Linked DNA regions of Homo sapiens. The protein of the gene in region 3 interacts with the protein of the main gene of each other region in a pairwise test. Each region holds a gene or a part of one and is shown on either strand. Other genes may lie near its edges.

Region 1 (3,653 bases), on a different chromosome or scaffold from region 3:
GGCTTGCAGGAGGGCCTGCCAGGGAGCAACGTTCTGAGATGGCTCCAGTGAGCGCTCACAGGGGGCCCCCTAAGCCTTCCTCGAGTCCCTGGGGCCCAGCTGAAGGCAGGCCTTGGTGAAGGGAAGGGGAATCCCACTGTTCGTGGCCCCTAAGTGCGGGCCCTCGCCCCACTTCCCTGCGCAGGGACCTCACCCTCATCCATGTCATAGCGGAACTCCTCCTGGTCATACTCCCGGCTCTCTTCCCGGAGGACGTCTGCATCTTCATCTCCAGGCCTCATGTCCATCTCACCCTCGAAGCCCTCCAGCAGAGCCTGGGCCTCCTCCCCGGGTTCTCCTGCACCTGAGATAAAACACAAGTCAGAAGCCTGAGTTCCTGGGAAAAATGGAGCCTGCAGACCTGTGCAGGGCAGCTGTCCCCTGGGCTGCCGTGCCCCCACCCTCCCCCTCCCACTGGCAGCACCTCATGTTCCCCATCTCAACATCCACCCAGCCCAGCCTAGGCCTGGCCAGGGGAGCAGCCCAGTCCCCACTGTAGTCAGTGGCTTGGGGATGGGAGCAGGTAGTCTGATAACTTTCATTCCTGAGGGTGTTGATGAGACTCTTGAGAAAGAGAAGTCCCCTGGGGTTCCTGAGAGTGCCAGCCAGGGGAGCCAGCAGAGAGGAGAGCTGGGACAGAGGGCAGAGGCTGCCCGGCCATTCTGGGGGCTGTCCCGGAGCTTCCCAGTCACATGAGCCAAGAAATTCTTAGCAGCATGAGTATTCTTTCACGGAGGCCAATCGGAGTTGGCTTTCCTCCGCTTGCCATGGAAGGGATCTCACCCGGGGTAGCCACCTTCAACTTTCCCCAGCACATTAAGGACTTCCAGAAAGACCACTGGGTTGGACATGGAGGTGCCACACGGACCCTTCTTCAGGGAAGGGCTGTCCCCTCAGCTGCTGTCAGTGCCAGCCCGGGGTCACACCCACATTCACTCACTGACCTAGGTGAGGGGATAAGGGTCCCCGAGACGCCACAGTGCTCCCCATGGAATGAAGCAAGGTTGTGGAGGCCACACCTCCGCCTCTGTCCAATCAACTCTGTTTCTTTCCTCTCCCCTCCGCTCTCCGGGAGTGTCCTCCAATCCCAAAGGCTCTCCCTAATAACATCCCGCACACTCAACTGACCCAGCATCTGATTTTCAGAGAGTCCAACCACACCTGGCCTGAAAACAGGATGTCCACAACTCCCACAGCCCAAAGGCGCCCACACCCTCCATCCCACAGCCTGGGGATGCCCCACACCCTCTGTCCCACAGCCCGGGGGATGCCCCACACCCTCTGTCCCACAGCCCGGGGGTGCCCCACACCCTCTGCCCCCTCCACCCCACAGCCCGGGGATGCCCCACACCCTCTGCCCCCTCCACTCCACAGCCCGGGGATGCCCCACACCCTCTGCCCCCTCCACCCCACAGCCCGGGGATGCCCCACACCCTCTGACCCCTCCACCCCACAGCCCGGGGATGCCCCACACCCTCTGTCCCACAGCCCGGGGGTGCCCCACACCCTCTGCCCCCTCCACCCCACAGCCCGGGGGTGCCCCACACTCTCAGCTCCTGGAGCGTCTTGGCCAGGTCCATCCGTAGAGGTCGGCTTTTTGGGGAGAGTTGGTGTCCACAGGGCCAATTCAGTGATTTGGGTAGCTTTCCATTTTGGAACAACAGTTACTAATTCTTCCTCCTCTTCCTCTTCTCCTCTTTCCTATTTTAAGTGCAAAAATGTACATTTACCAACATTTGTGTCATCTTGGTCTGGAATATTAAAAGTGAGGGAGGAAGGACAAGTTTTGAAAGACAGGTTTTGGCTTGTGTTTCAGCCTTTTTAGGACGTCACTCAGGAATCAGACCAGTTGCTGACTATCCATGGTATAATCTCAGGGTTGAGAATGGATCTTGAAAGAGCCAGGGTGAGGAATAAAGTCTCCAGAGCAATGCTGGGCCAGCGAGCTTTATAATGGGTGCCACAAAAGGCTTTCAGATGAGCATGTCGCAGTCGCCTGCAATAGCTAAGACATGGCCAGGACTAAGTGGCCAGAACTGAGTGACCAGGAGTAAGTGGTCTTTTCAATTGTTCGGCCACATTTTGCAACTCTAATATAAAAAATCGTGTATTATATAATTATATGTCTATTGAGCTTAGTAGAAACATAATTATTTATATTATTCTTTATATAAATAATAAAAGAAACAGCCATTTGTTTTAGGCTTAGGCCTAAGAAGTTCCTAAGATGTCCATATGATATGGATTTGCATAAACGCAAAAGCTCAAGTGTCAAGGATTATGGGGAAAAATAAAATTCAAGGAAAGCAGAATGAGAGTTCATCAAGTCTGAACATGGAACACTTTGTAATAAAAAATGTACAATTCCGACAATGGTGAGCAGCCAACATGTGCCAATTTTGCCAAGCATATTTGCCTACTTCTCAGTTTTGTGACTATCACAAAATTCCAAAGATCTGAGCATCAGCACTATGACTATGGAACACTTCGCTGCCACATAGGTGATAATACCGATGACAGAGAGGGGCAGACACCTGCCTCTTCCACTGAGTCACTGGGAAATCAATTACTCTCTATTTTGGTCTCAGAGTGTTTGAATATGGCCACCCATGAAGGGTGACACCAATGCTGCAGGACAGGGTCCTCAAACTTGACTTAGATCAGAATCACCCAGAAAGCATTAAAAGACAGATTGCTAGCCCCACCCCCAGAGTTTCAGATTCGGCAGGTCTGGGATAGCGTCCAATAAGCTGCATTCCTAACAGATTCCCAGGTGAAGCTGACAGCACTAGTTTGGGAACTGCACGCCACTTTATGTATAAAACCAAGAGGTGGAACCCTTTCACATTGCTGGTGGGAACGTAAAATGCTGCAGCTACTGTAGAAAACATTTGACAGTTCTTCAAAAAGCGAAACAGCATCACCATATGACCCAGCAATTCCACTCCTCGGTATATAACCAAAGGAACTGAAAACAGAGATTCGACCAGATGCTTGCACACCAATGTTCACTGCAGCATTATTCATAATAGCTAAAATGTGGAAGCAACTCAATTGTCCATCAACAGACAAATGGATAAGCAAGAACCTTGAAAACGTCGTGCTAAATGAAAGAAGCCAGACACAAAAGGACAAATACAGAATGAATTCATCTATATGCGACATCTAGAATAGGCAAATTCATAGAGAAAGAAAGTAGATTAAAAGCTATCAGGGGCTGGGGGAGGTCGAATGGGGAGTTGTTGCTTAATAGGTACAGAGTTTCTGTCTGGGATAACGGACAAGCTCCAGAAATGCATCATTCTCACAGCTGCACAACACTGAACGTACTGAATGCCACTGAAAGCATGCTTTAAAATGGCAAATTTCAAACTCTATAAACGTACATATAAAACCATAATTTAAAAAGAAACAGGGAGTGAGCCGTGGGCTGCAGCTTGGCAAGCCCTACTCTAGAAGGGATACATTCCCCTTACTAGGGAGAGAGAACACGGAGGCCCTTCTGTTCCACCACCATCCTAATCCATCCCCACAGCACAGTGGGAGGCCTTCCACAAAGCCCTCAGGTTGTTGCTGCATTATTTCATGGGTGGTTTTTCCTAAACAGCAACAGG
Region 2 (3,653 bases), on a different chromosome or scaffold from region 3:
ACTGCCAAGCGTTTTGGCTCACATCTATAGTCCCAGCATTTTGGGAAGCAGAGACAGGAGGGTTGCTTGAGGCAGGAGTTCAAAACCAGCCTGGATAACATAACGAGACCCCATCTCTACAAGAAATCTTTTTTTAAAAAATAGCTGGGCATGGTGATGCACACCTGTAGTCCCAGCTACTCAGGAGGCTGAGGTGGGAGGATCACTTGAGCCCAGGAGCTCGAGGTTGCAGTGAGATATGATGACACCACTGCACCCCAGCCTGGGTGATAGCACAAGACCCTGCCTCAAAAAAAAAAAAAAAAAAAAAAAGCTTCATACACACGTTCATACACACGAGTACTAAGTACGCAAGTAAGTGCTCACACGATTAGGGTAGAAAGGGCTGGAAGCCCATCAGGACCGCTCAGGGCTCTCTGGATTTGTTGTATATGTTGTGTTGGCACCTCCTTGGCTTGACTGCCCCAAATAGAACCTGATGTGAAGGTGGAAGCAGTTATGTTTCCAGTTGCCTTTGCAAAGCCGTTATTGCAGGCACAATCTTTAAATGTAGACAGTGGGTTTCCAGAAGTCCTGCTCTGCTTCACCTTGGTTTGTTGGGCTTGTTCCAGAAGAATTGACCTCCTAGGAATGCCCTGCCCTTGCTGGAATGCCTTGGAAGAGCACAGTGAAAGGGAACTGGGGTCCATTGAAGGCCTCTCGCTGCCCAGGCAGAGGGAGATGGGCTTCCTGGAGCATTGGCTGGGCCACAGCTCCTCCCTCATTCAACACACAGTTGAGAGCATAGAGTATTGAAAAGGTGGAGTTTCTCTAATCAGTTTGGATGACTTTTCAAAGAGGAATCCCATTGTGTCTTCTAGTATGTGTCTAAGTGCATATGTTTGCTTCTGATTTGTAGGATAAAAAGCCCAAAGAACAAGAAAAAAGAGGGGATTTTCTTCATCGACCATTCTCCAAGAAGTTGGACAAGAACCTGCCCTCGCACAAACAGCCCTCAGGCTCGCTTATGACACAGATTCAGAACACCAAAGCCCTCCTGAAGGACCGGAAGGCCTCCAAGTCCAGCTTCCCCGACAAAGGTGGGTCAGCTCTGGGGACTCTCTCAGGCCACTCGTGTTGGGCTGTGTGTCCGCTGTGTAGCCCTCACAGGGGATGGTCGAATGGGCCCTAGAGCAGAGATGATTCCTGTGCCCACAGAAAAGCAGGATTAATGGACCTGAGGTTGCCTGAGCACAGTCCAGGACCAAGCTGTGTGGCATTAGCCATCTGTGCAGGAAGAATTTGAGAAAACAGAGATGGGGTGCAAAGTATTACGGAAACAGAAATTGGGGTGGATGATATTGTCAGAACAGAGGTTGGGAGGCACAGTATTGCAGGAGCAGAGATCAGGGTGTGTGGTACTGCAGGGGCAGAGATGAGGCTGTAAGGAATTGTGGGAGTAGAGATGGGGTGCAGAGCAGAGACCGGGTATCTCCCTGAGTTCAAATCCCAGCTCTACTGCCTGCAGAGGTCCAAGTTCCTTTAGTGCTGAGGATCTTCACTGGATTATTTGTAAGGCCTCCCACCTGTTGGAGCTGTTGGGTAGATGAGATGAGATGCATATATAAGCTCCCTCACCTGAGTCAGAATCCAGCCCATCACAGATAACTGACAAATATGTTTCCCTCCTCTGGGACGAGTGCTAAAAGATGCAAAAGGCAGACCTTACTGGGCACAGGCTTAACACATGGTAGAAACGCCAAGAGGGGACACAGGAGCTGAGGGCGTCCTGAAGCAGAGCCATGAAGTAGAGGAGAGGTTCTTATTACTGAGGGGGATGAGACACTTCTTGGAGTTCAATCTCCTAAAATATGAAAGACCAGGTTCAGAGAGGGCCGTGGCTGTCTGAGATACACTCAGGTGTAGCGGGCAGTTAGTCCCTGAGCGGGACTTGAACCTGCCTCCTGTCCTTCTATCTCCCATGCTGCTCCCGGAGAGAAGCCACTGTACCCACTTTGCCCAAAGCAACCTGCTTTCCCTGGGGCAGAGCATGCAGTGGATCGGGGAGGGGCAGCAGTGTCCATGTGGCAGCTGGAACACTGGAGACCTTGGCCATTAATGAAGTTTTACTTCTTTCTGCTGATGCATCTCAGGTGCCTGCGCCGGCCTTTCATTTCGGTGCCTGTGTGTTTATTTCTGCAAGGCAGGGAGGCTTCCCAGTGCCCTCAGCCACTCCCAAAATCGATCCCAGTGGGCAGGAGCTTGCTCCTGCAGCTGGGCCTCCACAGAGCCTATAAAACGTTATGGGAGAAGAAAGAAGCTAAGACAGAGCTTATTCCGCATGAACTTGGCTTTATTTCCCTCATCCCCAAATCTGTAGGGGGTTTCCCCTTTCTTTTCTGGCCCAGTTTCCAAACCTGGATTCTAGTCTATGCCAACCAGAGACAGAAACCATGGGGATCTGGCAGGTTGCCTTAACTGTATGGATGGATGATATTCTTCCCCCGTTCAGAATTGGATGAGGTTCCATCCAGATCAAAAGTCACGAGGGAGCCTTAAAAGGGAAGGAAATCCTGGCACATGCTCCAACACAGATGAACCTGGAGGACATTATGCTAAGTGAATTACGCCAGTCCCTAAAGGCGGATACTGTGTGATTCCACTTATATGAGGTCCCTAGAGTGGTTAGATTCATAGAGACAGGCAGTAAAATGGTGGTTGCTGGGGGTTTCAGAGAATGGGGATGTATATGGGGTGTTAGATTTGCAACAGGAAGACAGTTCTGGAGATTGATTCTACAACAGTGTGAATATACTTATTATTGCTGAACTGTACACTTAAAAATGGTTAAGATGATAACATTTCTGCTACGTGTTTTTTACCACAATAAATAAATTTTTTAAATGTCACAAGGGAAACATGTCTTCCACTGTGGGCTGTCCAAGGACCAGATTGGCAGGAATTCAGTCAAGGGACCTTGGTGTGCTTCTGGGAGTTTTATGGATGTGCTGTTGAGTGCATGTACCTTTTTTATTCCAAGATCCTTTGGCAAGGTCCAGAATTTTTTTTTCTTTTTTTTCTTTTTTTGAGACAGAGTCTCACTCTGTCACCCAGGCTGCAGTGCAGTAGTGCCATCACGGCTCACTGCAGCCTCCACTTCCCAGGCTCAGGTGATCCTCCCACCTCAGCCTCCCAAGTAGTTAGGACCACAGGTGCATGCCACCACACCCTGCTAATTTTTTAAAATTTTTTTAGAGACGGGGTCTTGCCATATTGCTCACGCTGGTCTTGAATTCCTGGGCTCAAGCAGTCCTCCCACCTTGGCCTCCCAAAGTGCTGGGATCACAGGCGTGAGCCACCGCTGCCTAGGGTCCAGAATTTTAAGCAACCAAAAGCAGGGACGATGTTAGGCTGGGGCCATGAGGCAAATTGGAATCCAGGAGACGTCCTGTCGCCAGCCCTCTGTCCCTCCATCCTAGGAAGACTGCCCGACCTCTGTGGGGAGAGTGACATGCTGCTGGTGACTTTTGCAAAGTAGCCAAGGCTGTTTGCCGGTTGGTTTCTTCTGACCTTGGCGGGAACTGTCTCAGTTAAGCTGGAGGTCACAGCAGGCAGGAGAAGGGCCGTGAGCACTGTCCGGACGTCCTCATGATTGTTTATGCTTTCTTGGTGTG
Region 3 (3,653 bases):
CCAAAGCTATTTACTCAATAATCAATCTTTCCTAAAAATTTTAAAATAGACTATATGGATTAATTGGCTAATTTTATGAAGAACACTCACCATGGACCCATACCTCATGCTGTATACTAAAATAAATTCCAGATAGGTCTAAGAGTTAAACTAAAAAAAAAAAAAAACCAATAAAATAATGTAATTGCTTGATTATTCTGGCTCTTTGAAGAAAAAGAAACTTGAACCTACTTTAATAAATTAAAAAAAAAATGTGCACTCCGATGTTGTTGGGGCTTCGGGCAAGCAGATGCCCAATGTTTATTCCCATTGACTTAGTAACTCTGATTTGAGATACATTAAAGAAATGGTTCAGAAAGAGGAAATAAAAGTTATATGTCTAAAAATAGTCCCAGGTAACTATGATGGTTAAAAGTTGGGCAAAACAAATTCCCTAAGGGTAAAGTACTAAGCAGAACATGGTGTTTTGACCTAATAGTATATTATGACACTATCAAATATTATGACAACTCTGTGTACTCAATTTTCATGCATCGATAAACTGTGGTAGAAAAGTAGACTCCCAGATAACTTGTACATACTACTTCAGTATGTAAAATATTTGTATATGTTTATTTAGGAGATTGGACTAAAACTTGAAGGAAAGTATTAAGAAATATTGAGTACCTCCCCTGTCAGGCTTAGCCCCTGCCTTAAAGTACATTCAGATTGGAGAGATAGACATTTCCACTTATAATTACAATACAATTTGGCACATTCTGTATAATAAAAGGGTGCATAAGTTTGTGTGAGCCCATAGGATCCTGGGAATGATGGAAGGATTGGGACAGTGGGAGGAGGAGATGGATGGTTCCCAGTTCCTCCACCAGGAAGGAAAGATTTATAACAGTTTTACTGAGGTATATTTAACATACCGTAAAATTCACCATTTAAAGTGTACAGTTCAGTGGTTATTGTGTATTCACAGAGTTGTGCAACCATCACCACAATAATTTTAAAACATTTTCGGCCGGCATGGTGGCTCATGCCTGTAATCCCAGCCGTTTGGGAGGCCAAGGCAGGCGGATCACGAGGTCAGGAGATCAAGACCATCCTGGCTAACACGGGGAAACCCCGTCTCTACTAAAAATACAAAAAAATTAGCCGGGTGTGGTGGCAGGTGCCTGTAGTCCCAGCTACTTGGGAGGCTGAGGCAGGAGAATGGCTTGAACCCGGGAGGCAGAGCTTGCAGTGAGCCGAGATTGTGCCATTGCACTCCAGCCTGGGCGACAGAGCAAGACTCCGTCTCAAAAAAAAAAAAAAAAAAAAATTTCATCAACCCCAAAAGGAACCTTGAACCCTTCAGCAGTCCACCTTCATTTCACCTAACTCATTCCTCCAATCCAGCCCTAGCAGGCACCAATCTACTTTCTACCTCTGTAGATTTGTGTATTTGAAACATTTCATATAAATGGAATCATGCAATATGTGGTCATTTGTGATTGGCTTCTTTTACTTAGCATAGTATTTCTAAGGCTCATCCATGTTGTATCAGGTATCAGTTCTTTATTCCTTTTTATTGCCAAATATTCCATTGAATGGATGTATCTCCCATTTATCAGTTGATAAATACTTAGGTACTTCCGCTTTTGGTCCATTATGAATAATGCTGCTATGAACGTTTGTGTATAATTTTTTGTGTGGATATATGTTTTCATTTCTACCTAGAAGTAGAATTGCTAGGTCTTATGATAACTCTGTATTTAATCATTTGAGGAACTTCCAGACTGTTTTCCAAAGCAACTGCACCATTTTACACTCCTTCCAGCAGCGTATAAGGGTTCCTGTTTCTCTGCATCATCCCTAACACTTGTTATTATCTGTCTTTTTTATTTTAACTATCCTAGTGGGTCTGAAATGATATCTCACTGTGGTTTTGATGTGCATTTACCTGATGGTTAATGATGTCAAGCAACTTTTTATGTTCTTATTGACTATATGTACGTCTTCGGAGAAAACTGTCTATTCAGATTCTTTGTCTATATTTTAACTAAGTTATTTGTCTTTTTATTACTAAGTTGTAAGAGTTCTTTATATATTCTATATATAAGTCCCGTAACAGATATATGACTTACAAATATTTTCTCCCATTCTGTGGGGTCTTGCCCTGTTGCCCAGGCTGGAGTGTAGTGGTGTGATCATAGCTTACTGCAGCCTTGAATTCCTGGGCTCAAGCGATCCTCTCACCTCAGCCTCCCAAGTGGCTGGGATTACAAATGCACCCCACCAGCCTGGCTAATTTTAAAATTTTTTGTAGAGACAGAGTCTTACCGTGTTGCCCAAGCTAGTCTTGAACTCCTGGCCTCAAGCGATCTTCCTGCCTCAGCCTCCCCAAGTGTTGGCATTACAGGCATGAGCCACTGGGCCTGGTGACTTTTCCCTTACTTGATGGTATCCTTTGAAGGACAAAAGTCATTAATTGTGATGAATTCCAGTTTTTTTTTTCTTTTGTTGCTTCTGCTTTTGGTGTCATATCTAAGAAACCATCACTAATCTAGGGCCGGGAAGATTTATGTCTATGTTTTCTTTTAAGTTTTAGCTCTTACATTTCGGTCTTTTATCCATTTTGAGTTAATTTTTTTATATAGTATGAGATAAGGATCCATCTTCATTCTTTTGCATGTGGCACCATTTATCCCAGGCACCATTTGTTGAAAAGACTGTGCTTTCCCCATTGCATTGTTTTGGCACCCTTTTAAAAAAGCAGTTGATCATAAATATCAGGGTTTATTTCTAAAGTCTCAAATCTAGTCCTTTGATCTATATGTCTACCCTTATGTCAGTATCACCCTCTTTTACTATTTTGGCTTCATGGTACATTTTGAAATAAAAAGGTGTGAGTCTTCCAACTATGTTCTTTTTCAAGATTGTTTTAGCTACTCTAGGTCTCTTGACTTTCCATCTAATTTTGGTATCAGCTGGTCAATATCTTTGAAGAAGCAAGCTGAGATTTTAGTAGGGATTGCAATGAATCTGTAGATCAATTTGAGGAGTACTGCCATTTATCAATGTTAAATCTTTTAATCTTTGAACATGAGGTTTCTTTCCATTTATTTAGGCCTTCAGCTTCTTTCAGTAATGTTTTGTAGTTTTCAGAATATAAGAATATAAGTTTTTCACTTCTTTTGTTAAATTTATCCTAATCTTATTGTTTGAGACTATTATAAATGTTTTATTAATTTTCTTTGTGGATTATTTAATACTAATGCATAGAAATACCACTTTTTTTTTTTAATGCGATGGGGTTTTATACGTTTCTCAGGCTGACCTTGAGCTCCTGGGCTCAAGCAGTCCTCAGCCTAAATCTACTGAATAGCTTTGACTACAGGTGTGTGCCACTATGTCAGGCTGATTTTTATATGTTGAGCTTGTATCCTGCAATCTTGCTGTATTTATATATTAGTTTTAATAGCTTTTTAGTGATTTCCAAGGATTGTCTATATGCAAGATTTTGTCATCTGCAAATAGAGATAATTTTACTTCTTCCTTTACAATCTGGATGCCTTTTATTTCTTTCTCTTGCCTAATTGCTCTGGCTAGAACCTCCAGTACATGTTGACTAGAAGTGGCAAGAGCAGACAGCCTTTTCTTGTTCTTGTCCTTAGAGAGAACAC

Evidence for each region.
Region 1: the proteins of ZNF197 (region 3) and RSPH1 interact in a two-hybrid assay, tested with the Homo sapiens proteins (one large-scale study listed by BioGRID and IntAct).
Region 2: the proteins of ZNF197 (region 3) and HUNK interact in a two-hybrid assay, tested with the Homo sapiens proteins (one large-scale study listed by BioGRID and IntAct).

What each region holds. Positions count from the first base shown.
Region 1 is NC_000021.9:42,475,705-42,479,357, forward strand, and holds part of RSPH1 (radial spoke head 1 homolog), read right to left. Parts: intron 1,741-3,653; coding exon 1,587-1,740; intron 344-1,586; coding exon 194-343; intron 1-193.
Region 2 is NC_000021.9:31,994,870-31,998,522, forward strand, and holds part of HUNK (hormonally up-regulated neu tumor-associated kinase), read left to right. Parts: intron 1-898; coding exon 899-1,079; intron 1,080-3,653.
Region 3 is NC_000003.12:44,635,017-44,638,669, forward strand, and holds part of ZNF197 (zinc finger protein 197), read left to right. Parts: intron 1-3,653. UniProt on the Homo sapiens protein: May be involved in transcriptional regulation.